4 separate regions of the Homo sapiens genome follow, and regions 1, 2 and 4 are each linked to region 3. Evidence: fine-mapped expression QTL. A gene starts in region 3. Each other region holds a variant in brackets. All regions are shown on one strand. Distances are between the middles of the regions.

Region 1 (7,422 bases), 54 kb after region 3:
CCCAGCTCCCCTGTGAGGCACAGAGAGCAGGGCTGAGAGAAGGGGAAGTTTGTGATGGAGGCGAGTAGAGGAAGAGGCAAGGTCACAGATCTATAACGAGGAAAGGACAATGAGGGAGGCTGTAGGCAGAACAGATGGAGCCAAGGTGTCTGGAATGTATCCTGAGTCAAAACTCTCTGGCTTTCACAGTGTGTCCAGGACCCTTAGACAAGATGACCCTCCCCACACCAGGGTCCCCTCACACACTGCAGCCATGCAACCCTCCAAGCTTCACCTGCCTTCAAAAGCTGAGCCTTGGTTTCCCCACCTGTAACAGCAGTGTAGGAATACCCCTCGGTGTAGGATGGTTATGAGAACATAATGAGCTGGCTTTTGGAAAGCGTCCAGCACTGATATTTTATCAAAAAGGCAAGTAGGCAGCACCAGGCCAGTGAAGCGTGGGGGTGGAAAGGGAAAGAGAATGCAAAATTATGAAATCTGCCCTGCACAGCCAGGGATGCTAATGTTGGTACCAAATCCCACAGGTACCAAGTTTAGGTGCCCTCCAAGATGCCCAATGCAAAGCTTCTATTTTCCATGTGACTCAGGGGGTGAGATAATGCCACAGTAAATGTAAAGATCGCCTGTGGTCCTTTTACCGCTTGATCCTACTTCTTTTCTTCCTAAGCCCCTGTCCTGGGTTTCTCCACTGGCCCCTTGCACCTGCAGCCTCCCCACTGTGGGCAGAGGTGGGTGGGGAAGAGGGAGGGCTGAAGGGGAAGCACTCCTGGGTGAGGGGAACCTTGCTGAGCAGCCCTGCTCTTTTCTCCCTGGAACTCTCCAAATTGGGCTATACTCCTCAGGTCAGAAAGGGCTGCCCAAGGAGGCTGAAGTATCCCAGCACACCCCTCCAGAGCCCAGGAAGGAAGGCAAGGAGTACTGGCTGTTAAGGCTTGGCTCAGCCCTGTGGGGAGAGCTTGGGGATTGGAGGGGGTTTCAGAATTTTTCTCTGTCCTTTCCAGCAGGCAGAAGGATATTTTGGTCCCTGTCTTGTTTTTTCAGCATTGCTCTGGCCAGTGTGTGCACAAGGAGGAGAACTGTTGGATAAGAGCAGGCATTTGGGACAAAAAGATTTCTGGGTGTCAGGAAAGCCCTTAGCCCTTCCCCCAAGGGGCCCATAACCATGCCTGTCTGCCCCTGCAGTGACTTCCTGGAAGTTCCCTTCCTCTCCTTTTCTACCACCCTCCTTCTGCTCAGATTTGCACCCTGGGTCTCTGCCTCCTTCTCCCTCCCTCCTTCCAGCTCACTTCTTCCCAGTCAGGGCTTCTCTGTGCCAGATACTGGGCCCACGGGAAGAACACAGGCTGCGTGTTTCCCTGTGTGTTTGTGAGGCGGTGGGGAGGCATGGGGTAGGTCAAGGCCATCTAGTTCCCGTTCCTCCAGACAGCATGGAACTGTTCCTACCTCCTAAAGCAAGGTTGTCCTTCGCATTTCTTTCCTAATCTCATCATCATTCATTCATTTATTCTGTTGGGTAAACATTTCTTGAGCCCCTTTTGTGTATCAGACAGTGAGCTGAGCATCGTGGGTAGAGGCATAAAAAAGCCATAGTCTCTCCTGCAGGCTCCAGAGAGAGTTCACACTCAGGTAAGGAAGGCATGAAGGGCCCCAATACACAATCCCTCCAGTGAGAATCAGAACATGTTTCCTGGGTCTTGATACACTGAGGACCCCTTAGGGCTCCACAGAGGAGCCTCGGGACCTCCAAGGCTGGGAAGGAGGGTCAGGTCTTGGGGGCTCAGGGAGCCACCCTGTTTTAGATGAAGCAGCTCTGGTTATTTCATGTATGGGTTCCTGGTATAAGACTTTCTTTGAACATTGTGGCTCTTAAAAAAAAAACAAGTGAACATCTGAGCTTCAATCCAACCTCTCCAGATAAGGAAACTGAGACCCAGAGAAGGAATGAACTTAGCCATACCCATCCAGCAGTGAGGGGCAGGGCTTGGTACCCAGGAGGGTCCTGGAGGTGAGCATCATTTTGAGCCCTGGTCCCACCTACCCTTCAGGGAATCCCTTGAGAATCCCTCAAGCATCAGCCCTTTAATCTTAGAACTTGATGAAGTGAGGGTTCTGGGCTTTCACACCCTCGCCACCTTACAGCAGAGGGAGGCAGTGTTAGGTGGACACACCTGTATATAATTATAAAAGCCCCTCACGGGTGCACAAAAGTTTAGTGTTTATAAAAGAATTCCCTTCAAGCTCATTCTTCTTGGTATAATAAAAATACAGAAATTCTCACAGACAGTATCCCATTGAATGCTCACTATACACCAGGGAGATAGCAAAGCAGGTGTTATTAGTCCCTGGTCACAGATGAGAGAGGTTCAAGGGAAGCCACATGGCAGAGCTAACACTAGAACCTGGACCGTCCGAGGACTGAGCCAGGTTTGATGTGTGGCTTTTTGTTTGTTTGTTTGATTGTTTTGTTTTGTTTGTTTGAGACAGAGTCTCACTCTGCCACCCAAGGTGGAGTGCAGTGACGCGATCTCAGCTCACTGCAACCTCTGCCTCCTGAGTTCAAGTGATTCTCCTGCCTCAGCCTCCCAAGTAGCTGGGATTACAGGCGCCTGCCACCATGTCCAGCTAATTTTTGCATTTTTAGGAAAGAAGGGTTTTCACCATGTTGGTCAGGCTGGTCTCAAACTGCTAACCTCGTGATCTGCCCGCCTCGGCCTCCCAAAGTGCTGGGATTACAGGTGTGAGCCACTGCACCCAGCCGTGTGATGCATTTTACCCATGAAGGTGTATGTGACGCTCGGGAGGTGATTGGAACTGCTGGGCCAATTGGTCTGAAAGGGCCTCCTCAAGGAGGAGAATCTTGGGCAGCCCCATCCACCATTTGTTTCTTTGGCATTTGTGAAGGGCCTATTATGAAGACACCCCCCAAGAGCTGCAAGCATGGGGACTGGAGGCCCGGCTGTGTCAATCCCTGCTCAGAATCAGCTGGAGCTCCTGGTGGTGTGTTCCAGGGGTCCCAGACAAGGGAGGAGCATACTCCCTTGCTGGCAGGGGCTGGGAAGGATTCTGGAGAAAGCAACACATAGCCTGGGCCTTGAAGGAGGCACCGGATGCTTTGTGCTTGCAGAGATGGGCTAGTGGCCTGGAGGAGGACTTTGTGGGCAGAAAGTGAATGAGCAGCCTGAGCAAGGGGCATGGGAAACTGCCCAGTGTGTTCTGGGCAAGACCAGGGGCTAAGCAGGGGCACTGGATCCAGGCTGGGCAGCAGGGTGACAACTAGGGGCTACATTGCTGAGGTCCCCAGGGCAGACTGAGAGGACTGTAGTGGGCGATGCACCCACTGAAAGGCCTCACCCACAGAAGGCCTCAGCCCCAGTCCCAGATCTGCTCTGTAGCACTGGGTGAAGCCTGACCACTCCCCATACCTCCCTGAGCCTCAGTTCTCTTATCCATAAAAGAAGAAGAATAACATTACCTCTTTGACTTTATGTGAAAGTGCTTTTTAGATTGTAGATCACTACACAAATATACAGTCTACTCTGTTGATAATGGGAAGCTTTTGAGGATTTTTGAGGATTTTCTGAAGGACCTGAAAGATGCTATAGGAAGATCATCCAAGACGCTGTGCAGAGGGGAGGAGGAGAGGGTGAGAGCAGGCAGAACTGCCAGGAAGCAATCATGGTCAAAGATGAC[G/A]AAAAGTTAAACCTAAGAGGAAGCAGTGGGAACAGAGATGAAGATGGACAGGAAAGATGTCTCGTGGGAGGACTTCCGGGCATAGTGGCTGGGGGACTGAGGAGGCAAAGATGACTCTATTTCAAGCTGAGTTCCCAGGGAAATGCTGAGGAGGATGAGGGAGATTTGACGGACAGGCTGGTTGGGGGGATGGGGGATGGGATACGAAGTCCACTCCTGGACAGGTTGGGCTGGCTGTGCCCATGGGAGGGGTCCAGCAGCCTTCTGGAAATGGCCAAAGGGTGATCGGAGCTGGAGCTGGGTCATCGCAATGGAGGTGACAGTCAAGGCCCTGGGAGAGATGAGGCCACCCAGGAGAGGATGCAGAGAATAGGCTGTGGAGAAGCTGGGCTGTGCCCACAGTAATCAAGAGGGAGGGCAGCCAAAGGGGAGGAGCAGGCTACCAGACATTTCAGGAAGCAGGGGTGCTGAGTGGTTCGGGGCTGAGGGCTGAAGGGCAGCTATGATAGGTCTGAGGGGGATGTGGTGGATTTCATGAAAAGAAGGGTGTGGAGACCTCAAAGAAGCTTCAGGGGATGGGGGAGTAGGAGTGCCTCTCAAAGGTTGACGCTGCAGCAGGTAAGCAAGGTAGAGGCCGTGGGTGCAGATGAGTCTAGTTTGAAAGAACTTGGCAGGGATGAGAACAAAAGATGGATGGTGAGCTGCAGGAGAGAGGGGTCAAAAAGAGGTTGGTTTTAGATGGGGAGCTCTGAGCATGCTTACAGTCTGAGGGAGGGAAGCAGTGGCAAGGAAGAGATGAATCAGAGGGAAACGAAGCTGAGCACAGACCCCAAGGAGCTAAGCAGTTAATGACAGCTGGCTGGGCACAGAGCTCTGGATGTCCCCAGACCTGGAAGTATCTAGCTCTTCACCAGCTCCAAGCCCTCCCCCACTGCCACTGGGTCCTAAGGAGAGGCTCCCAGGTCTTCAACCCCAACCCAGCCCTTCCCTGAAGCCCCTCCACCCCCCCACCTGACACAAGGCCAGCAGTTGGCCAGCCATGCTGCAGCTCCATTAAAGACTCAGCCTTCTCCCAGCACCAGCTCCTCTTCATCTGACAGCCTGTGGCCCAGCCCCTACCCCTAACCCTAGCCCACGGGGCACCAGTCACAGATTTCTTGGCTTCTCTGCCCCTGTCTGCGGCCAAAGAGGTGCCTCTGGGCAATCCGCCTGCCACCCCACCACTGTCTGGGAGATCCACCATGTGACTCATAAGCGCTCATGCTGTCCTGTGCAGCCCACCCCATCCCAGCCAGCAAATGCACCCCACCTTCCTGGACTCCTCCGACAGCACCTCCAAGGGTTCAAAGGCAAGCAATCCTCTGTTTCCCCTCCCCTCACTAGGCAGAAGGGGAAATTGAGGCAGGGGAGATGATGATATCTGTTGGAGGTGAGGCAGCCTGGTATCTGACTCCCTAATCGCTCCCTTATTCCTCCCCACCCATCAAGAGGTGTCCTTGTCCCTCAAGAAAGACAAATACCCCCACTATCTTCTATATGTTCCAAAAGGGAGAAGAAGGCTGTCAAGACTAGAGAAAAGAAGGAAGGAGGGGCAGAAGTGAAGCTGCCAGACTAAATTCAGGACACCCAATTAAAAACTTTTAACAGCTTTATTGAGATACAATTTACATAATATAAAGTTCACCCATTTAAGGTGCACAATTCAGTGGTTTGAGTTACTTATGGAATTGTACAACCATCACCATCATTTAATTTTAGAACATTTTCATCACCTTTCCTCCAAAAAAACTTTGCACCCATCAGTAGTCACTTCCCAACCCTTCCCTCCACCACCCATCCCTAGCAACCACTAATTTACTTTCTGCCTCCATGGATTTGCCTATTCAGGACATTTCATATAAATGGAATCATATGATACATAGGATACATGGTCCTTTGTGACTGGCTTCTTTCACTTACCATAATGTTTTCAAGGTTCATCTGAACTGTGGCATGTATCCATACTTCATTCCTTTTTAAGGCTGAATAGTATTCCATCCTGTGGACAAGCCACATTTTGTTTATCCGTTCTTCAGTTGATGGACATTTAGCTTGTTTCCACTTTTAGGTTATTGTGAATAATGCTGCTATGAACATTCGTGTACATGTTTTTTTATTTTATTTTTTTTTTGAGACGAAGTTTCACTCTTGTTGCCTAGGCTAGAGTGCAATGGTGTGATCTCGGCTCACTGCAACCTCCGCCTCCCAGGTTCAAGCGATTCTCCTGCCTGAGCCTCCTGAGTAGCTGGGATTACAGGTGTGAGCCACCACACCTGGCTAATTTTTTGTATTTCTAGTAGAGACGGGGTTTCACGATGTTGGCCAGCCTGGCCTCAAACTCCTGACCTCAGGTGATCCACCCACCTCAGCCTTCCAAAGTGCTGGGATTACAGGCGTGAGCCACCACACCTGGCCCACGTACAGGTTTTTGTGTGAGGATGTGTTTTCATTTTTCTAGGGTAGATACAGACAGAAGAAAAGGCAGAACACATGTCTGGCCCTTTCTCACATTTATCCCCTGTATCATCACCCCACCTGGGTGGGAAGCTATTATGCTCCCCTTTGCCAGATTAAAACACTGAGGCTCAAGGAGAGGCCTGAAACCACTGAGTGCTGGAGCTGAAACGTGAGCTCAGGCCTCCTGATTTCCACTCCAAGGTTCTTTCCAGTTCATCACAATAGCCCACTCAGAGAGTCTGCAGCCCACTGAGGGAACGAAACAGAAGGAACTGAAAAGCAACATCTTCCACGTGAACCATCACCTCATCCTTCTGAAGTCCTAACTAGGTGCTTCATGGACCATGTCCTGGGGTGTAAGGGCTGAGACTGAAGCCAGAGGCTTCATGGAAGGAACGAGTTTTTGCTCCACTCAGTAAAAAGCTAACTGGGATGAAATGGCCCCTGTCCTCAGCCAGTATCCCTGGGTCCCCTGAGAGCCTGCAGGAGAGCCCACCATGTACACATTCTCATAGTTATTTCTCTGAGTGAAGCCCCTCCCAGCAGCGATGGAAGCCAGGTGTGGAAACACTAGGCATTCACTCATTATACTCAGGAATCAGAACTGGTCACAGAGGCTTGGCCACTGATTCCGGCTTCAGCCCATTCCCTCAGCTCCAGTCTTATCCTGGCCCCAACTCCCTGATGTTAAGCAGAACTCAAAGTGCTAGTCTAGAATCATTCCCTTCAGATCTGCCTCACCCCCTCTGCCCTGAACCCTGTCACCAGCGAGCACTGGGCATGGAAGGAAGGGAATTTGCGCTAAGTGCACGTTCCTCAGGTCGGGATAAAGAGGTAGTGGATGGCCTGGGCTCCCTGGTCCTCTGTGGGCTCATCCCAAAGTCCTACCTTCCACACCAGAAAAGCAAACAGCAGCTTGCTAGAGGGGTCCACTCTACAGTTAAAAGCCACTCACTCCATCTGGCTCGTCAAGTGGGGTGGGAGACACAGAGGAGCCCTTCACTTACTGAGCTTTTCTATTTCAATCACTATCCCCGGCCCGAGTTGGACAGACTTCATCCAGGGCTTAAAATAGCTCCCGGGGCATAGAGCTCAAGAAACATTGACTGAATGTTCAATGTTCAAAATAATACACTTCAAGAGTACAAGAAGGAAGTCTCACAACGCTTTATGGTTTAGAATTATTTAACTATCATAGCATTGCCGGTGAAATAAGTATAATCATTTTCCCATTTC
Region 2 (7,422 bases), 24 kb before region 3:
CCTTTATAGACTCTGCTCCTAGCTGTTAGTGGTACTTTTTTGTACAGAACCAACAAATCAATCCCTAGGTTGCATTTCCCATATCAATCAGCTCAAATTCTCCTTCTACAATTCTAATCAAAACTCATCCATTCCACAAGCATGTCCAAGCTCTTGGCTGAGACTGTGGATGAAGATAAATGAGATTTGACTCCAGATTCAAGGCCTGAGCTTCTGGAGTTTATAGAGTCTAGAAGAGAGGGGATAAGGCATGCCCACAAAGTATTATAATTCAAGATTAAATGAGTCATAAACAATTAAAAAAGAACAAATTAAATATGTTCAGAGGAAATTTCCTCTGGTTGGATGATCTGTGGGGACCCTAACGTAAAGAAACAACAGAACTGAGATCGAGTTTTGAATGAGGGTTCAGACCTCACTGCAGTCTCAGGCAGTCAGCCATGAGACTCAGAGCCATGACCTCAGATTGAGGGCCAGGGTGTGTCCAGACTGGACCAGGCACGCGAAGACCCGGGAGGCAGGAGGGGATAAGGATGGAGAGAGGCTGAGGCCAAACGGTCCAGGTTTGTGGACTGCACATAGCCATGGGAGAGAGCGAACTGAGTGGGCACCATGACCCAGGCAGCAATGTAAACCAGCAGCCCAGCCGCTGCACTTGCAGCTGACAGGAGGGAAGGGGGTTCGTGCAGGACCCTCACCCACAAACCCAGGGGGTTAACCAAGTTTCTGTCTAAGAAGTTCAGCAGGGCAGATTTCTCTCCTTTCTTAGTAATGTGAAATGTAAGCTGGTCAACAGGCATGATTTCTCAACAGCAGGAAATGAAGCAACTGTTTTGGAGACAGCATCCCTCCCTGATGGAGGGCAAGGCTTCAGGCTGTGGTCATTTTCCTGTCAAGTTAATCCTAGTTGTAGAAAACACATCTCCTGAGAAGGCTGGCCTGTCAGGGAAGGGGTGGAGACCTGGAGGCCTGGGGTAGGAATGGGAATGAGGAATGAGCAGGGCTCCATGTTGTTACTCATGAGCGGTAGGGGCTCTGCTGGAAGAAGATCGGGCAGTGTGGAGAAACTGGAGGCGGACTAGGAGGTGGGGTGGGAGGCTGGCGGCGAGCGGAAGGGAAGGATGGGCAACAAGCTTCAAGGGGACTTGGAGGTCTCAGGGAAGGATGCCAGACCTGGAATAGTTCCCAGCCTCTGCCTCTTTTCTTTTTTATTTTTCGACAGAATCTTGCTCTGTCGCCCAGGCTGCAGTGCAGTGGCGAAATCTCGGCTCACTGCAATCTCTGCCTCCCAGGTTCAAGCGATTCTCCTGCCTCAGCCTCCCAAGTAGCTGGGATTACAGGCACCGACCACCATACCCAGCTAATTTTTGTATTTTTAATAGAGACGGGGTTTCACCATGTTGGCCAGGATGGTCTTGATCTCTTGATGTCGTGATTTGCCTGCCTTGGCCTCCCAAAGTGCCAGGATTACAGGCATGAGCCACCGCGCCTGGCCCTCTGCAACTTTTCTCTCCATCTTTCTGAGGCCCATGGCCCCTCCCAGACTCAGTCATAGCCCTAGCTTCTGGGACCTGGGACCACAGTCATTTCTTCTAGTTCCTTCTCCTGGGCCCATCTTTACCATATTATATTGTAAGTATTGGCTCAACAACTGCCTTCTACATAGACCCTGGGCCCATTGAGGGCAAGGGCCCTGTCCCCCTCCTCTGCTGGCCCTAGCACCTGGCAGACTGGGGCTGAACCTGCAGGGCCTGTGGATGTCGGGCTGAATGATATAGTTGCCGTTGTACCTTCTGGGTCTCTTCCACCACCTGATCTCTAAATGTCAGGATGCCTCAGGGCTCAGGCATGGGCTTCTGCCCTTCTTGCTCTACGTGAACTCATCCGTTCCCATGGCTTTAAATAGCATCTTGACACCAATGACTGTATCCGCAGCCTAGACCTCTCCTCCAAGCTCCAGATGCATGTATCCACCAGCCCGCTTGCTCTCTCTACCCAGATAAGGCATAAACAGTTCTTTAATATGGCTGAGACAGACCCCCTACTCTAAAACTTATCTCCACCCCATGAATTCCTCACATTAAACAATTAGCACAACCTTGTCCACCTTGCTAAAGGTAGGACCCCCTGGGTGGTTCCTGGTCCCTCTATTCCCTCATCCTTTTACATCCAACTCATCTGTAAGTGTGCGGATGTTCCCTCCAAGGAATGTCCATAGTCCACCCTTCTTTCCACCTCCACGTCCCCAGCCCAGGGCAGGCCACCGCATCTCTTGCCTGGACCTCTTTAACAGCTGCTTATGTTCATGCCTCTTCCACTCTTGCCATACCACAAATCTATTCCCTACAGAGCCACTAGAGTGACTTTCCAAAACATAAACTCTATCCTGGACTACCTGCTTAAACATCCAGTGGTGTCCCATTGCACAGAGGACAAAACCCCTCTGTGGTTTCCACAGGCCCCAGGACACAGACCTGCCTCTCTCCCCGGGGCCTCTTGTCTCTCCCCACATCCCCAAACTACTCTAGCCAGCTGGTCAGCTTGCTTGTGCTTTTCTCTTTTTTTTTTTCCAACACACTAAGCTCTTTCTCACCTCCAGGACTTTGCATATGGTGTTCTCTGCCTGGATCATTTTCTCTCTTCTTGAGGTAGCTGACTCCCTCTCATCCCTCAGATTTCTGCTTAAGATCACCTCCTCGGAGAAGCCTCCCTGACTGTCCTAACTAAAGGAGGTTCCACTCCTCACTCTCCCCACCCTAGCCCAGGACTTGGCACCTAATAGGGGCTCAGTAACTCTTTCCTGAAAGAATGAACACATGCTGCCCTTAGTCCCTGGCAGACTCCTGTGAGCTCTTTAGTTTATCCTTCTAAGCCACCAAAGATTCACTCTCCTTTCCGCTTATTTTTACGTTTTCTCAAAACTTTCCTCATAAACACCATATTGTTGAGTTTCTTTCTCTCCCTAAAATAGCTGCAGAACTGGACAAAGACTGGCTATCTGCTTCCTAGCTGTCCCTTTCAGTTTCAGGGTTTATGTGCTAGTCATTGCAGGGGAGCAGTGGGGAGAATGGAAAATTACCAACAAGGAGAAGTGGCAGAATCCAGGGACTGACCGTGTTCTTACACCCGTGGTCCTCAGTCTATAGTTAGCTTCTGACTTCCTTTCTTGGCAAGATCTATACCAGCTATCTAGGACAGTCCCAGTTTCAACTGTTCTGTCCTATTGTCCCACTGTGTTTCATGAATTTTCTTACAATATTGGCTCTCTCTCTTTTTCCTCCCACTCTCCTTTTATCCCATGAGGGCAGCCTTACTTAAACAACCC[T/C]CGCACTCAGTGTTGAAAGAGCTGAATTCAGTTCAAGTCTTGCTCAACCACATAAAATGTGCACGACTTTGGGCAAAGCACTGATCCTCTCTCAGCTTCCGTTTGCTCACCTACTGAGAGGGATAAGGCCAACACCTCCATTCCAGCATTCGGCAGGGCGGGTTGTGACTGGAATAGCATGTGTTGGGCACTTGGCACCCATAGCAAGTCTCCCTTGCCCCTCAGGATGAATAATGGAGTGAATTAGTCTTTCAGCCAAAAGACTCTGGGCTCCAGAGAGTAATGTAATGCTTTACCCAAACAGTGGAAGTGTGGAAGTGATGTGGATGTTGGGGGACTGTTATATTCTCTCGGTTCAGCTGTGGCCTGAGTGATGAGTCAGGTCATGTCTGTAGATAGAGAGCTCTGTCTCCACAAAGAGGAGGTGCCCAGCTCCAATCCCTGGGGAAAGGTTGTATCTTTATTGGAAACCAGAGCTCAGAAGACTAGCCTTAGGGAGATGGAAGAGGGCCCCGACTTGGGAGCAGGGGTGCATCTTTCAACAGGGGTCCCTAAACAGATGGCGCCCTCCGTATGGAATCAGGAGTCGAGCATAGCTTGAACGTCTGACTGTCCAGGACCCACCTCAAAGCGTGCACTTCCCCTGCCTCACCCTCAAGCCTCCCCTGAGTCTTATCTGAATGCCTTGGCTCAGGCTCTGCTTTTCAGGGGGAGGACTGTGCCACCTCCTGGGCCAGAGTGTTAAGGGGTGACCAGTGCCCCTGAGACCACCTTGGCTACAACCTCTCAAGGGAAATGTGCATCTTGGTGAATCCGAGGGACAGGGTAGGGATCATGCAATCCAGCTGCTTCTTTCTCCCCACCAGGGAGGTCTTCATCCAGTGCCAACCTGGGTAGGTCTGCCTCGAGCATGTTTTTATTGAGGAGCTGGCACTTTCTTTCAAATGTCAGGGGCATTGAAGACCACGCAGGTTTCACCTCCTCCAGGCCCTTGCCTAGCAGGAGAAAGGTCACTTTCAGGCATGTCCTCACACTCCCTGCACTCAGGTTTGCCTTGGGCCATGCCTGGTCAAAGGAAGCCTAGAGACTGGGCTCCAGTACAGGCTCTGTATTTAGCAGCCAAGTGACTTGGAAAGGTCACCTGCTCTCTGCTTCCTCATTGTCAATGGAGAAAACAATCTCTGTATTAGTTTTCTGTGGCCGCTATAACTAATTACCACAAATTATAATGGCTTAAGACAGCACATATTTAATGTCTTACAGTTTTTTGAGGTTACAAGCCTAAAATAAGTTTGATAAAGCTAAAATCAAGATGTCCACAGGGCTGTGTTCCTTCTGGAGTCTCCAGAGCAGAATCTATTTCCCTGCCTTTCTAACCTTCTAGAAGCTGCCCGCATCCCTTGGCTCGTGGCTCCTTCCTTCATCTTCAGAGCACATCACTCCTACCTCTGCTGCCCTTGTCACATCCCCTTTTCTGTGTCTGACCCTCCATCATCCGCTCATAAGGACCTCTGTGATTATATTGGGCCCACCCAGATAATCCAAAATAACCTCCCCAACTAAGACTCTTAACTTAGATACATCTTCAAAGTCTCTTTTGCCATGTGTGGTTACATGTTTCCAGGCTCTGGGGTCTAAGACATGGACATCTTTGGGGAGCCATTATTCTCTCTACCACAGCCTCCTTACCACATAAGCTGTTCTCAAATCGCATCCATCTCCAGGCTTCAGGAAGGACCTTCTCATCTCATCGCAGGCCAAAGGGCCCGGTCGCCTAAGGATGAGGCCTGGTCCCCTAAGTACTCCTAAGGATGGAGAGTCTGAAGATAGCTTTATTTGCCTGTTTTCTTTGAAACAGGGTCTTGCTCTCTCACCCAGGCTGGAGTGCAATGGCAAGATCTCAGCTCACTGCAACCTCTGCCTCCTGGGTTCAAGGGGTTCTTCTGCCTCAGTCTCCCAAATAGCTGGGATTACAGGTGCATGCCACCACACCTGAGTCTTTTTAGTAGAGACGGGGTTTCACCATGTTGGCTAGGCTGGTCTCGAACTCCTGACCTCAGGTGATCTGCCTGCCTTGGCCTCCCAAAATGCTGGGATTATAGGCATGAGCCACCACGCCCAGGCTAGTTGCCTGTTTTAATGTTGAAGGCTCTTAAAGGGAGTTATAACTGCTATCTGACCCATCTCCATTCTGGCAAAAGGGATCCATGTAGCTCTGCTGTATGCGTTTTCCAAATTCAGTGTTTAGTGGGGGAGCCACAGGATCATCTCAACTGCAGAGGGTGGAAATCTCATGGGAGAGCCAGAAATGAAGGTGGGGTTGGAGAAGGAGAACCGGCCTCCTCAGAGCATCTGCTCCGTGCCAGACCCTCACATGCATACCTCACTGAATTCTTACCACAATCCTGTGAGGAGCTGAGGCTCAAGGGGGCTGAGTCATGCTAAAAAGGTCAGCAAGTGGCAGAGCTGAATGGGGGTTGGGGACTTTTTCTGATTCTACCACAGCACCACGTGGGGTTGGGGTCACCTGGGCTCTGGCTTTGTACATTGCCAGTGTTTCTTTTCTCCTGGCATCAAAAACAACTCCAAGGAGAGGATGGTTGTTTATGGTGAACAGGGCTATTTAGAGAGGTTAGAGGTGTACATTTGTAGATGACATTTAGAATGTATGGAGAAGGAGTGTGTGTGTGTGTGTGTGTGTGTGTGTGTTTCACTAACCTCCACTTACTTCTGGATACTGAAGGGAGAGGAGAAGGAGGATCATCCAGTGGATTGGAGTTTAAGATTGTCAACAAGACATCACTAAGAACACCTTTTGCATGCCCTATGGATAAGTGCAAAGCATCCCTCAAAACAGTGGTTTCAAATCACAATCACCATCCAGAGAGATGTGTTAGAGACCTGGGTCCTTGGGTGTGAGAGATCTGTTGAGAGAGTCAGGCCCTTACCCAAGCATGGCTATGGGGAAGTCCAGCAGAAAGAGACACAAACCCTGCCCTCAGGAGGCACCAGATCTGAAAAGAAAAGGAGACGAGAGCCCCTACCTTCAGGGAGATCCTAAAGTGTGTGGCAGATGGAAAAGAGATAGTCCTGCCTTCAGGGAGCTTCCAGTCTGAGAGGTAAGATGAGACACATGGGCACTAAAACACCACCATAGACACAGGTGTTCCCCAAGCTCACAGACCCAGTGGTTGTAAGAACACAGTCAGAGGATAGAGCAATTAGATGTGAGCCTGTGAAAGAGGGAAGGTTCCAGAAGATGAGTCTGGAATAGAAAGAGGAATCACTGAAGTGAGGAGTGGGCACCAGAATGGGGAGTACACTGTGAAGGCAGAAGCAAGCCGGTCAATCCCTGGGATGGGGGACACCCAGATCGGCTTGAGTGGCCATCACTTCTTTAACAAGATGGGCCAAAACCAGGGTCCAGAAAATAAATACACACATGGCTGCTCCAGGCACCTTCAGAGGGGTGAAGACTGCTGGCCCCGACTTCTAGAGTGGTTCCTTACCCTGCTTTCACTCCCAGTCCCCTGCCCATGGGTGTCGTGTGCCAGAAAGCACAGACCCTGGGAGCCACTGCTCCCTTACAGGAGAGGCCGCCTGAACACAGCTGTCCCACATCCAGGCAGAAATGGTGCACAGCGCCACATTCCACCCTGTCTGCTAACCAGGAAACTGATTTCAGGCTGGCTAAGGGGACCCTTGTACATCACTTTTCTATTATCTTCATGTGGCTTCTCCAGAGAGACCAGGTTTTCATGGGCCTATGAGGGACTGTCAACTTCAGTTCAGTTTAGTTTAACAAATGTGTGTTGAGCATTGCTGACACTCTGCCCTGTTTCCAACATGACTAAGCACTTCACATACCATGGCAGGAAAAAAAAACCAACAGGGTCGCCCTGACTGGTTCTGGTCCCCAAAATAAGCCTTGACTATTTCCCAGAAACTTGGCCTTCCTAAGAAAAACCATTTGATCCCTGACTTTTGCTCTGCTGAAGTCTGAGGATACGCTGTGACTCTGATGACCATGTGAGAAAGTTGCTGTTTTCCACCATGAAGAAATGGTACCAATGTAAACACGGTCATCTAGGCCATTT
Region 3 (7,422 bases):
ACATGTGCCCTGTACACACTCTGGGTCAGGGAACCCAGCCCTGCTCCTCTGGGCCTCCCCTGCCAGGTGCAGTACCTGAAGGACAGGCAGCTGGCGGGCGCCATGGTATGGGCCCTGGACCTGGATGACTTCCAGGGCTCCTTCTGTGGCCAGGATCTGCGCTTCCCTCTCACCAATGCCATCAAGGATGCACTCGCTGCAACGTAGCCCTCTGTTCTGCACACAGCACGGGGGCCAAGGATGCCCCGTCCCCCTCTGGCTCCAGCTGGCCGGGAGCCTGATCACCTGCCCTGCTGAGTCCCAGGCTGAGCCTCAGTCTCCCTCCCTTGGGGCCTATGCAGAGGTCCACAACACACAGATTTGAGCTCAGCCCTGGTGGGCAGAGAGGTAGGGATGGGGCTGTGGGGATAGTGAGGCATCGCAATGTAAGACTCGGGATTAGTACACACTTGTTGATTAATGGAAATGTTTACAGATCCCCAAGCCTGGCAAGGGAATTTCTTCAACTCCCTGCCCCCCAGCCCTCCTTATCAAAGGACACCATTTTGGCAAGCTCTATCACCAAGGAGCCAAACATCCTACAAGACACAGTGACCATACTAATTATACCCCCTGCAAAGCCCAGCTTGAAACCTTCACTTAGGAACGTAATCGTGTCCCCTATCCTACTTCCCCTTCCTAATTCCACAGCTGCTCAATAAAGTACAAGAGCTTAACAGTGTGTTGGCGCTTTGCTTTGGTCTATCTTTGAGCGCCCACTAGACCCACTGGACTCACCTCCCCCATCTCTTCTGGGTTCCTTCCTCTGAGCCTTGGGACCCCTGAGCTTGCAGAGATGAGGCCGCCATGTCCTCTGCCTAGCCGCAGAGAGCCCCAGTGGGAGGCCAGCGTCCTCAGATTCACCTGCCTTGGACTTAACCCAAGCATGGCTGATGGCCTTCCAAATATTAAAGTCATTGCCATCCAGATTTCTAAATTAAATTCCCTGTTGAAAGAAACGTTTTCTGTTTCCTGAAGGCTAGCAGGCCCTGGGAAAGAAGGCTTTTCATCCCAACACTCCCTCTCTTCTGATCCACAGGAAGGTGGTGGGAGCTCATCACAGGACCAGGTTAGAAAGCCCTGAACCCTGGACCCTCAGGGCCAGCAGGAAATGCAGATGTCATCTCATGCACCCTTCCTGCCTCTCGGGACTGGAGTCCCTGCAGAGTGCTTGAGAGATGGCCCTCCAGCCTCCCAGTGAGGGGCAGCCGATTACCTTGGAAGCAACCCATTCCGTGGCTGGGCTGAAATCTGTCAATAGTCCTAGTGCTGGGCTTAGCCCTTTGTTCTGTTCACCCCTCCCCTAACACTCATCCCTCCACCCATTCAGAGATCAAAGTACCTCTGCTCAAGCTGGCCTGAGATAGGAGGTCGGGAGGATGTGATGGGGTGACTCAGAAGAATAGACAGATTTTCAGCCTTTATGAGGTGGAGACGCTCTCATCAGGCTTCTGTTGAATTCCCAGGGCCCCAGGAATGCCTTTATCCAAAAAGGCTCCAGATACTCACCCCAGAACTAAAGAGAATTGATTTGTGGATTCTCTGATGTTTGGATTATCTGTGACTTAGGATAATCACAAATTGGCCTGATGGTTTGTGACGCCGGTTTGAAGTGGAGGGAAGGAGGAAATATCTGAAATCTGAACCAGCTGGAGCTGGGCAGATGCTACTGATCCCAAGGTCACAGCCCTGCTGAAGGCGAAGAAAACAAGGACTCGGCAAGGCGTGGAGTGGGGTGTGGGGAGGGGGTACCCGGCATTTCACCTCTGGCTGGTGGGGCCAAGTATTCCCTAATCCCTGCCACTGCCCACCCCACCACACAGGCATCTTTGAAACCCCAGGGCTGCAAGCCCTTGTGGGCAGCCAACTGCCCTCCCCTGGGGCCACCCTTCCCCCAGCCGGGGACAGGCTCTCCAGGGCTGACTCAGTGTCCTGTGGGGTTAGTCACATTCACTTATAGCTGCAGAGTCAGAGGCCAAGGATGGAGATCCAGTCTCCAGGACCCACTCCCTGCCTGGCAAGACGTGGAGTCACCTAGCAGAGGGCGAGGGCATCCAGGGAGGGCCAGATCCAGAGGCTCCCAGGCCCTGCACTGCCACTCCCCAGCAGAGACAGCAGGGTTGAGAGGCAGCCACACCCTGGTGTCCCCAGTCCTCAGGAAAGGGAAGAGCATGCATGCTGCTGAGGGCCCTGAATAAATCACTTTTACTTATTTTTAAATTGTGAGCACATCTTACGTGCTAAAGAGTGCATAAATGTATTTGTTTAATTTGAAGAATAACTATGTAGTAAGAACCTGTGTAACCACCACCCAGGTCAGGAAAGGAAACCTCATTAGCACCCCTGCAGCCCTCACGATCACAGATATCCCTGTTCCTCCACCTAGAGGCAATCGCCATCCTAACTTTTGTACTGGCCTCATCTTCCTTTCTGGCCTTACCGCCTACGGATGTACCTTGAAGAAGGGAGCCTGGTGTTGACTGCATTTGGATTTAATGTAGATGAGACAGATGAGACGCAACATTTCTGTGTGCCTTGCTCTTCTGCTCATCACTGGGTCTGTGAGTAGCTGAAGTTGCTCATTTGACCCCATATTTTGCTTTACAGTTGCATAAACACTCCACAGTTATTTATCCATCCCACTGTTGAGGGACAGCTGTTTTCCCCCACATTTCAACAATTACAAATAACATTGCCATGAACCTTCTTCTCCATGTCTCCTGGGGCATGTGTGGGTGTTATATGAGCGGCACGGCTGGGTCACGGAGTAGGCACCTCATCCATTTTACTAGGCACTAGTAAAACTCTCACATTTTCCAGAGTGACTGCTCCAATACCAGCAATAAAAGTTCTTAATGTTCTCCCTCCTTCCTGACACATGGCATTTTCTGGCTTTCCAGTGATTCCCAGTCTTAACATTTTATCGAACAAATGAATCAATGACTAGAAATCTGGCCATATCTGCCTCCTTTGGCACACTGAGAAAGCCCATGCCCACAGCCTGCTTGGAAGAGTCTAGAAGCTTCAGAGTGCTCTCCTCCACTAGGGCATCTTCCAGATCTGCCTACAACTGCAACCCATCCCGAAGGGCGAGGGGTTCTCTGTAACAGGTGGAAAACTGAGGCCCACAGCAGGCATCAGGGGAGACGAGCTCCTTACCAGCCGCCCAACTGAGACAGGAGCCAGGAGACTTAGTGCCCCTTCCTGGGGTTCCAATGCTGGAGGACCATCCTCTGAGCAGCTCCACCCTCAGCATCTCAATTCCCTCCCTCTCTAGGGCCCTCAGCCTCATACAGCACAGGCGAGAGTCCCTGGGAACTGTGGGAGCCCAGGGAATGTGGACCCCAGAGGCAAAGCTGGGAGTGCTCACAAGGACGATTGTCCCAAACTGTCAGGGCCCCAGCACCCAGTCTGAGAAGCTCTGGGAACAAGTGGCCCCATAGACGCCAGACACACAGAGCCTGAGCTGGGCTCATTCTCCAGATAGAAGTTCTTCCTCCTATTGCCCTGACACCTGGCACGCGGCCTGCTCGATGTCCCATCTCACCCATCTGCGCCCTCCCCCAGCTGGGCACCAGCACCCTGGCTGTTGAAGGCCAGTCGGGGAGATGGATGAGGAAGTGACTCCTCAAGGGGCCCTTGTGGTTCCTCCCCCAGAGCTATTCCTGGCCTGGGCGCCTCTCCACCCTCCAGTCCTCCTGCTTGACCTGACCCCACAGCTGGGAATCGTTTGCTGGGGGTGGGGCAGCCCCTGACTATATAAGCCTGGACCTAGGTGTCCCAGGCACCCTAGAGGCCCAGGCCCCCCAACGGCTGACCCCTGCACACTCCACCCTGGCCCCCCAGCCAGTCCAGCAATGATGGAAAAAAACACCTCCGAGGGCCCTGCCTGCAGTCCAGAGGAGACCGCATCTGAATCTGCCAAGGTGCCCACAGCAGAGCCTCCCGGAGAAGTGGCAGTATCAGAGTCCACCAGAGAAGAGCAGGTGCCCAAGCCGCAGGCCCCTGCCCCACAGGCCCCTACAGCCTCCACAGCCACTAAGCCTGCACCCCCAAGTGAAGGTGACTGAAGGTGGGGCAGGGGGAGGAGGGAGGCAGGCATGTCAGGGGTGGAGGGGAGCTCTTGGCCATGAACCTCTTCATCTCCCCAGATGTCCCCAGTGCCCCACTGCTGCTGACCCTGGATGATGTGAGCAGCAGCTCTGTGACTGTGAGCTGGGAGCCCCCAGAGAGGCTGGGGAGGCTGGGCCTCCAGGGCTATGTGCTGGAGCTCTGCAGAGAGGGAGGTGAGTGCTGGGCTAAGTCTTGCATACACCCAGGGGAGGTTGTCATGGAGGGCTGCAGGGACAAGTGCACAGGCCCTGTGGTTGGTCAGTCTGGGAGAGATACAGAAGGAGGGGATGCGAGCAGTAGGCTCCTCAACCCACCCACCTGCCCTTTCTTGCTCCACCAGCAGGAGAGCAAGAAAGGGTAGGTGGGTGGGTTGAGGGGCTCCCTTGTCCTCAGCTCCAAGGAGCTTCTGAGTAAGGGAAGGGTAAGGGGACACTGGGTTCTCCTTTGGTGAGAAGGGAAGGAAGTGCTAAGTCTCAGAGGACCCCGAACTGTAGGAAGTGGAAAGGGAGGAGCTGGAGAGGGGAATGTTAGCGTAAGAGACAGTGAGGAGAAAGCGGGAATGGGGTGGGGGTGTGGGGGCCACATCCCTGCTGCCACTGTCCCCCTCCATGGCCCAAGTCCAGCCTGGCCTCTGCCTCTGCCCCTACCTTGCTGTGTGACTTTGCAAATGTGTCCAACCCTCTCTGGGCTTCAACAACCTCATCTCTAGCCACAATTTCAGGGCTCTAACATCAGGTGTCTTTGATGCCATTTGACAAGAAGTCAGGGAAGGCAAACAAGGGGAAAATGAGGCCCAGAGAGGGAGGCTGATTTCCCCAGATCACCAGCAGGAAAAGAAGCCCCATGGAGAGGGGCGCCTGTGGCCACATTGCAAAGACCTCACACTCTCTCCATCCCCTCAGCCTCGGAGTGGGTGCCTGTGAGTGCCCGGCCCATGATGGTGACCCAGCAGACTGTGCGGAACCTGGCTCTGGGAGACAAGTTCCTCCTGCGCGTGTCTGCAGTGAGTTCTGCAGGGGCTGGCCCGCCGGCCATGCTGGACCAGCCCATCCACATCCGAGAGAACATTGGTAAAGCCCATCCTGGCCTTCAGCTACCCAGCCCTTCCCAAACACCTTATCTAATGGAGAAACTGAGGCCAGCAGGTAGAGGGAACCAGGCAGTCATTTCCCCCGTCCCACGCTCACATGCACAAGCCACACGCTATCACCATCTTGCCTTAAGAAAGTTCCAGGTTCCTCAGCAGTAAGGGGCCTCTGGAGGTCTAAGAAGCCATTTCCCTGAGTGGTCCAGCCCCCACGCCTTGAGAAAGGGGCTCAGAAACAAAAGGTCAAGTTCCCTGGGTCACCTGCTCAATGCTAAGAGTCCATCTGTTCTATCTCCCATCTAATCTCAATCTCTCCAGTGGCCATAAATGCTCATTTTCTGCCCATTTCCTGTGGCCTGGGTTCCAGATTCTCTCAAAGGTCTTGAAACAGAGAGAAGGCGCTGCTTGCCCCTTGTTCCACCATGGCCCTAGTGGAAAGAAAAAGAAGGTCTGCAAAAGGCCCATGAAGACTTCTCCATTGCAGAGGGCATACCTCACTGGGGCCCCGCAGGCCAGCTGCCATCCCCATTGCTAATATTTCTATTTGCAAGGTGCATTAGCCTCAATCCTCCCCTCGCTCCCCTCCCGGAGCTGATCGGGTTTCAGTCTGTTAATGACAGTGAGTCATTTGGTCTGATCTGAGGTCTCTGGGGACAGCACAGTCCCCCAGGGTGAGGAGAGACACAGGCAGGCAGGTGGCCTGAAGCCTTCTCCACCTTCCTTCTTGCTCCTCCACTAGGGGATGGATGATTTCTGGTAGCTCTAGACAAGGCCTCCAGAAGGAGAGGGGATCCACAGGAGGGGTCAAGTCTGGATTCGAAAGGAAATGCTCAGCTCTGAGGCCTGAGAGACATGGGAACCATGGGGTTAGGGAGCTTAGATTCATAGATTATCAAGGCCCAAGGAGATCCCAAGGAGCCCAGGGCATCCCTTGAGGTCACCCAGCCTTTTATTGGCAGTCCCAGAGTCTGATGCCTACACAGGACCACTCATGTCCCACTGCACTGCAGAGCATCTTCTCTGGTGGCACCCAAAACCCAAGCCTCCCAACCCTAATTCCCAGCCTTTGGCTCTAGGTGAGATGTGGCCCCACCAGGCAGCTGCATTATGGCTGTGTCGACCCTAGTCCTGGAGGTGCCAGGAAGGCTTCTTGGTTGGGACGGTGCTGGGCCTTCCCCAGGGAACCAGGGAGCTCAGACTCTGAGAGGCCCCTGAGGCCCAGCATTGATGGACCCAGCCAGACTCAGCACCCACTTCTCCATTCAAATTCCTCTGGCAGGAGAGAAGGGGATTTCCTGGAGAGAAGAGGGAGAGGAGGCTGTGAACAAGTGGGGAACAGCCAGGCTTATCACAGGGCAGAGTGGGGGCCCTGTCCAGGATCCTTGGCTGCTCAGCTGTCTCTCCTTGGCCACCTGGAGCTGCCAAGCATTCTTGACCCCCTGCAGCTGTCCCTAGAGCATTCCATGCCTGAGCTCCCAGAGCCAAGTGCCCACTCAGCTAATCCTCAGAGACACCGTGTTCCTTCTCACTGTCTTGTCCTCCTCCGCCCTGCATGCCACCAACCAACTGCTGCCACCTGTTTGCTGCTGAGGAGCCTCAGTCATGGACCCAGCACCCACCCCAGGGGACAGGGATGGTGGCCACTGCAGCTTCCCTTAGAATGCCCAGGGGCTTCAGTGGTTGCCCCTGACCAGATGAGGGTCAGAATGTCATTCCTTAGCATAGCAGGCAGCTGAAATAGGACTTCAAGAAGGACTTCCCGGCTCTGAGACTAACAGATTTTGGGAGGGTGACAGAGGAAGAAGGGGGGATACCCGCCCTGGCTTCACTTGGGAAGAGAAAGATCCTAAACCTTTCAATAGGGCCTGGAGACAGAGGAATGGACAAACAGGGTTTCACAAAGGCTTCTCTGAAAGTCCTGGGCTTGTGGAGAGCTGGGGATATTAGAGCAGGAAGACGGCAGTGGCCTCCCCTTCCTAGAAGTGCAGCCTGACAGGTGCAGCACCTGCTCCCCAGCAGGGGGAGACAGAGAGTCAGCTGGGGCCCATCTGGTGCTTGGGAATGCCTGGGCTGCAGGACAAATCCCATCCTGGCAGAGTCGAGGCGCCAAGGGAGTGCCCAGGATGCTTACCAGTTCACACCATGGAGGCGCTGACCTCCTGAAACCTCCTGCTCCCTTAAGG
Region 4 (7,166 bases), 40 kb before region 3:
AATTCCATCTCATCCATGCCATCTTGAATTTATCCTTAAGCCCAGGTGCCTCAAGCTGAGTCCAGAATTCTAGGTCACTGCAAAGAACCTCCTGATTCTCCAGGCTTCCTCAGACAGGAATTTTCCAATCTCTAGTCTCCTCCTGGTGAGGAAGGGAAGGTGCCTGCAAGAGCCTCCCTCCTCCTCCCCAGTGCTGCCTTCTGCTCCCACAGGTCTGCTCCTGGAAGGGGGCCACCAAACAGAGAATCCAGGATCAGAAGGTGCCCTACATCTTCCGGGACAACCAGTGGGTGGGCTTTGATGATGTGGAGAGCTTCAAAACCAAGGTGAGGCCCAGCTCTGCTGGCAGAGGGGTGGTCCTAGTGAACAAGTCCTGTCAATGACATGGAATGAGGACAGTTCAGGACCTCAAGGGTGAGTCTCCTTTAAATGTCCCAACATTTCATAAATCTCCACGTGATAGTATTTTGTACCTTTACTACCTATTGACTCAGAAAAGACAAAATGACAAAAAATTGCTCTACATTTAGTAGCACTCTGGAAAGTATTTCTATTTTATTAAATACCATACAAATTCTACAGACATATGAAGAGGAGAAATACACATGGTGAGACATATAGCTTTCTTCAGCCCATTGGCAATATCTGGTGCATGTCCAAATTACAGACCTTTTGCTTTACTTATAGGACCCCCTTCTCCTGCCCAATATTGGTGCATTTACCTGGTTTCATGCCATTTTCCCCTGTGAAACTGTTAGCTCCTGAAGACGGATGCTTCACTAGTTTATCTGTACATCCCACATCAACTATCATGTGTGGCTGACAGCGGCAGCTTCTAGAGGTGGACAATTGCAGGGGGGCACGATCCTGGCTGGGGAGATGGGAGAAGGGGTCACGGTGGAAGGGTATTTCAGATAAGTCCTAAAGCATAGAAGGTGGCCATTCTTAGGGGTGAGGGAGCGGGCAACTGCACAAGCAAAGACGCGGGTGCAGAGAAAGTAAAGGCTGGACTCTGAAAACAAAGTGTAGGCCCACATAGCTGGACCCCCAAGCAGGGCAGGTAGAGGAAGGGAGCTAGCTGAAAGGGAGGCTGGGGCCAGCAAGGGATCAAGCACCATGGCCCCCTGGCAGGGTTAGAGGACAGAGAATCCCACTCTGAGGGAACACACAGTCATACCCTCAGGAAGCCTCAGGAATCTGGTGGAGGGAAGATGGCTCTCAGGGAAGACAAAGACATGAAGACAGAGAAGCAAGCCTTGATTGAGATCTTTTGGAAATCTGAGTTGTTCCCTATGGTAACTGGACTTACCTTGACCTTGACCTTGACCAGCATACAATACCCTTAAATAAAGCAGCTCAGCCCACACATGACCAAGCGGTGAAGGGTTCCCACTTAGGGAGGTGCACACAACTGACACTATTCCTCCCGACTGCACCCACCCCACCCCAGGTCATGCTTACGTTAAGACAAGGAGACTGCAAAATGACTGATGTCCAAGCAGCATGAGGACTCAGCATCCAGGCTCCCAGCCCAAGGCTGTCTCCAGAATCTACAGCCACTCACAGGCCTGAGGCTGCTGGAGCAAAAAGGGCCCTGTCCAGAAGAGGTAGCCAGGCTCTGGGGTGGCCGGGTCAGGCTTCCCCGGGCTCCTCCACTGCATCCCCTCCCTGCACAGGTCAGCTATCTGAAGCAGAAGGGACTGGGCGGGGCCATGGTCTGGGCACTGGACTTAGATGACTTTGCCGGCTTCTCCTGCAACCAGGGCCGATACCCCCTCATCCAGACGCTACGGCAGGAACTGAGTAAGTAAGGGGCCCAGGGCCAGTGGTGGAATTTGGAGGTGGGGTACAAACACAGCTCCATGCATCCAATGAACTGTAGGTCCCGGGTCCTTCTGAGGAAATGACTTTGCCCCAATACTGTAATTTCCCAAGCTTCATGTACCCGCAGGAGCTAAGGAAACTGTCAAAACAATTTTCCTTTTTGCGGTCTTTCTCTTCCT[G/C]GTTGTAGCAATGCCTGCCCAGGGTTGTTGTAACCGTGGCTTCCCTCCAGAGGGCCCCCAGACTGGGAGCAGCACCTTGTTCCTCTCTTACCTGGGAGAAAGCCTCCCCTTAGCCTGCAGCGTGGCACCCCCACCTGCCCTCAGCAGTATATGGTTGTGCTTGCAGATGGGTAAAGCCTTAACTGCCTGTCACATGTGAGGCCAGGTGTTGCCTGTGGCACTGTGCTTCAGCTGTAGGTATGGCTGTTGTCTGGCTGTTCTCTGCCTGGGGTATCTGGCTGTACTCAGCCTGTAGGGCATGTGGTGCTGGGCTGCTGCCAGCCAATGGTTGCTGCCTGTGTGCTCTGCCTGTGGGTTTGGGATCTCTTCGGGGGAGCCTTGGTTGAATCTTCACTGTCTTCCCAGGTCTTCCATACTTGCCTTCAGGCACCCCAGAGCTTGAAGTTCCAAAACCAGGTCAGCCCTCTGAACCTGAGCATGGCCCCAGCCCTGGACAAGACACGTTCTGCCAGGGCAAAGCTGATGGGCTCTATCCCAATCCTCGGGAACGGTCCAGCTTCTACAGCTGTGCAGCGGGGCGGCTGTTCCAGCAAAGCTGCCCGACAGGCCTGGTGTTCAGCAACTCCTGCAAATGCTGCACCTGGAATTGAGTCGCTAAAGCCCCTCCAGTCCCAGCTTTGAGGCTGGGCCCAGGATCACTCTACAGCCTGCCTCCTGGGTTTTCCCTGGGGGCCGCAATCTGGCTCCTGCAGGCCTTTCTGTGGTCTTCCTTTATCCAGGCTTTCTGCTCTCAGCCTTGCCTTCCTTTTTTCTGGGTCTCCTGGGCTGCCCCTTTCACTTGCAAAATAAATCTTTGGTTTGTGCCCCTCTTCCCAAAGATGTGGTGACTTAAGAGGCTCTCTAAGCACACTGTTGACTCCAAAACATCCGCAGGTCAGAGCCAGGTGGGAAGGTGGTCCGTGCAGGATGTGCCAGGCCCTGTGGCAGGTCTTGCCCCATGAGTCCATATGCCAGTGGGCAGTTTCCAGTACACAGGTGATGGCAGCCAGAGCGCGGCCCCAAGTGCAACACGTTCTTTGGTTATTGGCTCAGAAGCCTGGAAACAGGAGCTTCTGCGGACCTTCACGCACGTGTTATTCCCAAAATGCCACTAGATGGCAGCAGAGAAGAACTTTTCCCTGATTTAAGCGCTCTGCGAGCAGCCACTCAGCATTACACTAAGAATTCAGACCCCTGGTACTCAGGGGTCTTCGAGATAAATCCTGTTTGGGCCCTTTGCAGGCCCTATCTCACCTACTGCCCCCGTTCACCAGATGAAGAAGGAACAATGATTATTCTCACTTTATAGGCATTTAAACTGAAGACTGATTCTAACCAATTCTGAGTCCAGAACCAAGGCCTGAAATGGGCCAGAGAGCATGCACACGGTGTCCTGGTTAAATAAAGTCATCCCAACATTCCTGGCTGCTTTGGGCTGCACCTTGGTCATTCTGTTTGAAGAAAATCTGCACAAAGCCTAATGGTCCAGCCTGTTATTCACTCCAAGCTGGTTTCTGGTTGGGACTTGGGAAGGCAGCTGGGGACTGGGACAGGTGAGATGAGGGGGAGGCAGCTTGGCCCCCCATGTGAGTCAACCCAGCACCAGAGCGCAGGAACAGTGTCCCCGTCACTCCGGCAGCCTGCCTGTCCATGGGCATTTTGAAACCTGCTCTCCTCAGTCCAGAGCACAAGCTGCTTGAGCACGTGCTCCGCCCCCTGAGGTCTCAATTGAGGGATACACCAACCACATCCCAACGAGCTGTTAGGAGTGGAGTCCAGGTGCAGGGGTGACTTCTGGCGTGCTGCACTCCAGCTGTGTGACTTCAGGCAAAGAAGCAGAGCCTCAGTCCTCTGCTGTAGGATGGAAGAAATGTGAGGAGTCAGTGAAGTCGTGCACGCCTGCCCTATGATCAGTGCTCATTCCCTCCCTCCCTCTTCCCTTCTCAGCCCTTTCTTCAACTTCTGTGAGCTGGGTTTGTCAAGGATTTAGCAAAAACTGTAGTCTCCTTTTAGCAGAATGCGCCCTCCTACAAGCATCCAAATAACCAAAGTCCTCCCTGAGTACGCAGTCTTACACCTGCACTACTGTTACCCTCAGGAAAGCATTAGCCACAGCCTCTCTCTGGTCTTCACATCCACCCTGCTCCTCTACAAACTCATGGCCACTCCCTCAGCTAGAACCAGCATCATCTCATATCTGGACCCACCTTCTATCTGGCCTCCCTGCTTCCTGCCCACCCCCTCTTCCAGTCAGCCACCACATCGCAACCAGTTTAATCTTTCTAAAATAGAGATCTAAGCCTGTCAGTTCCCCTGCTTAAAAACTAAGCAAGGGAAGTGACAGGCTTCCCCTGCCCAAAGGAGAAAGTCCCCACCCATCAGCACAGGGTTGAGACACTTTATCAGGCCCTCGTGTCTTCTCCGGTCACTTCTCCTGCCGTCCCCACCCCAGTTCAGTTGCTGGGTACCCCTGATGTCAGCATTAACCTCAACCATCATGCCAGCTCCTCATGTGGGACTCCCACAGCCCTCTGTCACCCGGCTAGCTCAGGCCCACGCCATTTTCTGAATGAATCCTGTCTAGGACAGAAACAATGAGAGTTCTCGAAAAGCTATTTGTGTTCAGATTATCTCTTTTTGTTTGTTTTTGTTTTGTTTTGTTTTTTGTTTGTTTGTTTGGTTTTTGTTTTTTGGGTTTTGGTTTTTTTCTTTTTTTTTGAGACAGAGTCTCGCTCTGTTGCCCAGGTTGGAGTGCAGTGGCGTGATCTCGGCTTACTACAACCTCCACCTCCTGGGCTCAAGCGATTCTCCTGCTTCAGCCTCCCGAGGAGCTGGGACTACAGGCACCTGCCACCACACCAGGCTAATTTTTGTATTTTTAGTAGAGACGGGGTTGCTGTTGTTTGCTTGAGACAAGGTCTCTCTCTGTCACCCAGGCTGGAGTGCAGAGGCACGATCACAGCTCACTGCAGCCTTGACCTCCTGGGCTCAGCTGATCCTCCCACCTCAGCCTCCCAGGTAGCTGGGACTACAGGTACACACCACCATGCCCTGCTAAATTTTGTATTTTATGTAGAGGCAGGGTTTTGTCATGTTACACAGGCTGGTCTCCAACTCCTGGGCTCAAGTGATCCTCCTGCCTTGGCCTCCCAAACTGTTGGGATTACAGGTGTAAGCCATTGTTCCCAGCCAGATTGTCTCCTTTGACTCCACCTTGGCCTTGAAGCCCCATGTGGCTGGAGTCTTCCTGCTGCTGCTGAGTTTCTCAGCACACACCAAGTGTCCATGCAGGCCTGGTGTCCAGCTGGACACAGCAGGGACAAGAGCCGGGGCTTTACTTTCCTGAGGCTAACATTCTGTTGGGGGAGGCAGACAGTGAACAAACGTGCACATAAGACCTTTCCAGGCAATAATGAGTGCTGAAAGGAAACAAGATATGGCTAGAGAGTGAAGGATGGCGGTGAGGGGACTGCTGTGCACAGTGTGGTCACAGAAGGCTCAGTAGAGGCCACATTTGAGATGAGATCCCAAGTCAAAGGAAGATTTGCCCATGCACTTTTGAGATCCACAGTCCTCAGGGGTAAATCTGGGTGCAATTCTTCCCTGGCTGCCTTTGTTAACCCAGCTTATAGGACATGGTCCTGCCTTGGTCCCCTCTTCTAAATGTCCCCAAGAGGCCCTGCCTTGGCCCCATTTCTCCCCTGGCACAGGTGCCTCGTGTAGGCCCTTAGTCTGATGGCGGTGATCATGGCCCCATGGACAAGTCCTCCAGAGCAATGACTGCTCCCCTATCCTTTATGTCAACTGTCACCTCAATCCCCACTTGCCTGGTGGCCTTTTAGTTAATACCGACTGAGGTTAGGGCTCCCGGCCACTGCCCCAACCTGTGGACTGTACCTTCAGAGTCAACCTTTGGTGACTGCCCCAGCCTCTGTCATGCCCTTATGCCCAGTGCATGGTCCACGTGCATGGTCCAGTACAACATCCTCCCTCTCCTCTGCCCCAGGTTGCTGCTAGGAAAGCACCCTTGGTGTCCCATATCCAGTGTGGTGACCTGTATCCCAGGGGACCATCGGGAGTCTCCAAACAAGCCATGCCTTCCTCCAGCGCATCTCCACCTGTGCTTCACTTCTGCCTGTGCCATCCCTCCTTTCCCCACCGGGCCACTGCCAGTCACCCTGAGACAGTCAGCTCCTGGGTTACTCTTGCAGGAAACATCCTCGGGTGCCCTGGACATCAGTGACTGCCTCCCTGCCACACTAGACCACTGGGCCACCACACTGACATATGCTGCCACCGTGATCTGTGTGGATGTTAGACTCCTCCCCTAGGTTCCGAGCTCCTAAGGTCAAGCACAATGTCTTAAGTGGTCCTCTCCAATCATGACACATGTTTGAGGCTCAGTAAATATTGAACCATGTAATTTCTGACTTTTTTTCTTCTTTTACCCTCAGGTGCAGAAATCACTTAGAGGATTTCCAGACTGAAGTGCTATTTCATGACAAGAGCACTACTCTCCCAAGCCCTTCTATTGAATACCACTGACTCTTTTAATATTAGTGTCCAGCCATTAGTCCTTCCTTCAAAGAGACAGGGGAATTAACATTCGTTGCATGACCAGAGACCATACTAAGCATGTATTAGACATCCAATAAATAGTTACTGAATGAATAGTAAGTGAATTAACCTGTGTCGTTTAATCCTCACGGTACCCCTGCAAAGGACGTGTCATTTTCTGTTTCCCTTGGGTTACACAAGCAGTATGTGGCAAAGCTGCAATTAATTAGCTGATTAATTAATTATTGAGACAGAGTCACTCTGTCACCCAGGCTGGAGTGCAGTGGTGCAATCTTGGCTCACTGCAGCCTCCGTCTCCTGGGTTCAAGTGATTCTCGTCCCTCAGCCTCCCAAGTAGCTGGGATTAAAGGCGCATGTCACCACACCCAGCTAAATTTTTTGGTATTTTTAGTAGAGATGGGGTTTCACTATGTTGGCCAGGCTGGTCTCGAACTCCTGACCTCAAGTGATCTGCCCACCTCAGCTTCCCAAAGTGCTGGGATTACAGGCGTGAGCCACCACGCCTGGCCTAAAACTGCAATTTAGATGCCAGTCTAGATGAGACCC

Alleles and levels. Alleles are on the strand shown, and positions count from the first base shown. SD is a standard deviation of normalised expression in the study named. Not every link is listed here.
For the expression in fibroblasts of the gene that starts at base 3,826 in region 3, C is the high allele of the variant in region 2 and T is the other (moderate effect, 0.47 SD a copy in GTEx).

What was found. PIP is the estimated chance that this variant, and not a neighbour inherited with it, causes the effect.
Region 1: its variant is fine-mapped to the expression of MYBPH in whole blood (TOPMed, PIP above 0.99).
Region 2: its variant is fine-mapped to the expression of MYBPH in fibroblasts (GTEx, PIP above 0.99). The same link has a PIP of 0.9 or more in whole blood.
Region 4: its variant is fine-mapped to the expression of MYBPH in whole blood (TOPMed, PIP above 0.99).

What each region holds. Positions count from the first base shown.
Region 1 is chr1:203,118,117-203,125,538 of GRCh38, reverse strand. No RefSeq gene overlaps it. Among named protein-coding and RNA genes, the nearest start is that of ADORA1, 5.9 kb to the left of the region's middle. The variant G/A (reference allele first, on the strand shown) is at 3,691.
Region 2 is chr1:203,196,167-203,203,588 of GRCh38, reverse strand. No RefSeq gene overlaps it. Among named protein-coding and RNA genes, the nearest start is that of CHI3L1, 13 kb to the right of the region's middle. The variant T/C (reference allele first, on the strand shown) is at 3,326.
Region 3 is chr1:203,172,230-203,179,651 of GRCh38, reverse strand. It overlaps MYBPH (myosin binding protein H), which reads left to right and starts at 3,826. Exons shown (of 11, transcript NM_004997.3): 1 at 3,826-4,101; 2 at 4,191-4,325; 3 at 5,055-5,222. The coding sequence starts at 3,897. It overlaps CHI3L1 (chitinase 3 like 1), which reads left to right. Exons shown (of 10, transcript NM_001276.4): 10 at 67-721. The coding sequence ends at 207. RefSeq lists enhancers at 1,045-2,244, 5,162-5,691.
Region 4 is chr1:203,212,376-203,219,541 of GRCh38, reverse strand. CHIT1 (chitinase 1) reads left to right here. Exons shown (of 11, transcript NM_003465.3): 9 at 213-326; 10 at 1,677-1,803; 11 at 2,409-3,463. The coding sequence ends at 2,653. It overlaps LOC124904485 (a long non-coding RNA gene), which reads left to right and starts at 6,055. Exons shown (of 2, transcript XR_007066797.1): 1 at 6,055-6,389; 2 at 6,497-6,719. RefSeq lists enhancers at 1,942-2,697, 2,698-3,453, 3,454-4,210. The variant G/C (reference allele first, on the strand shown) is at 2,004.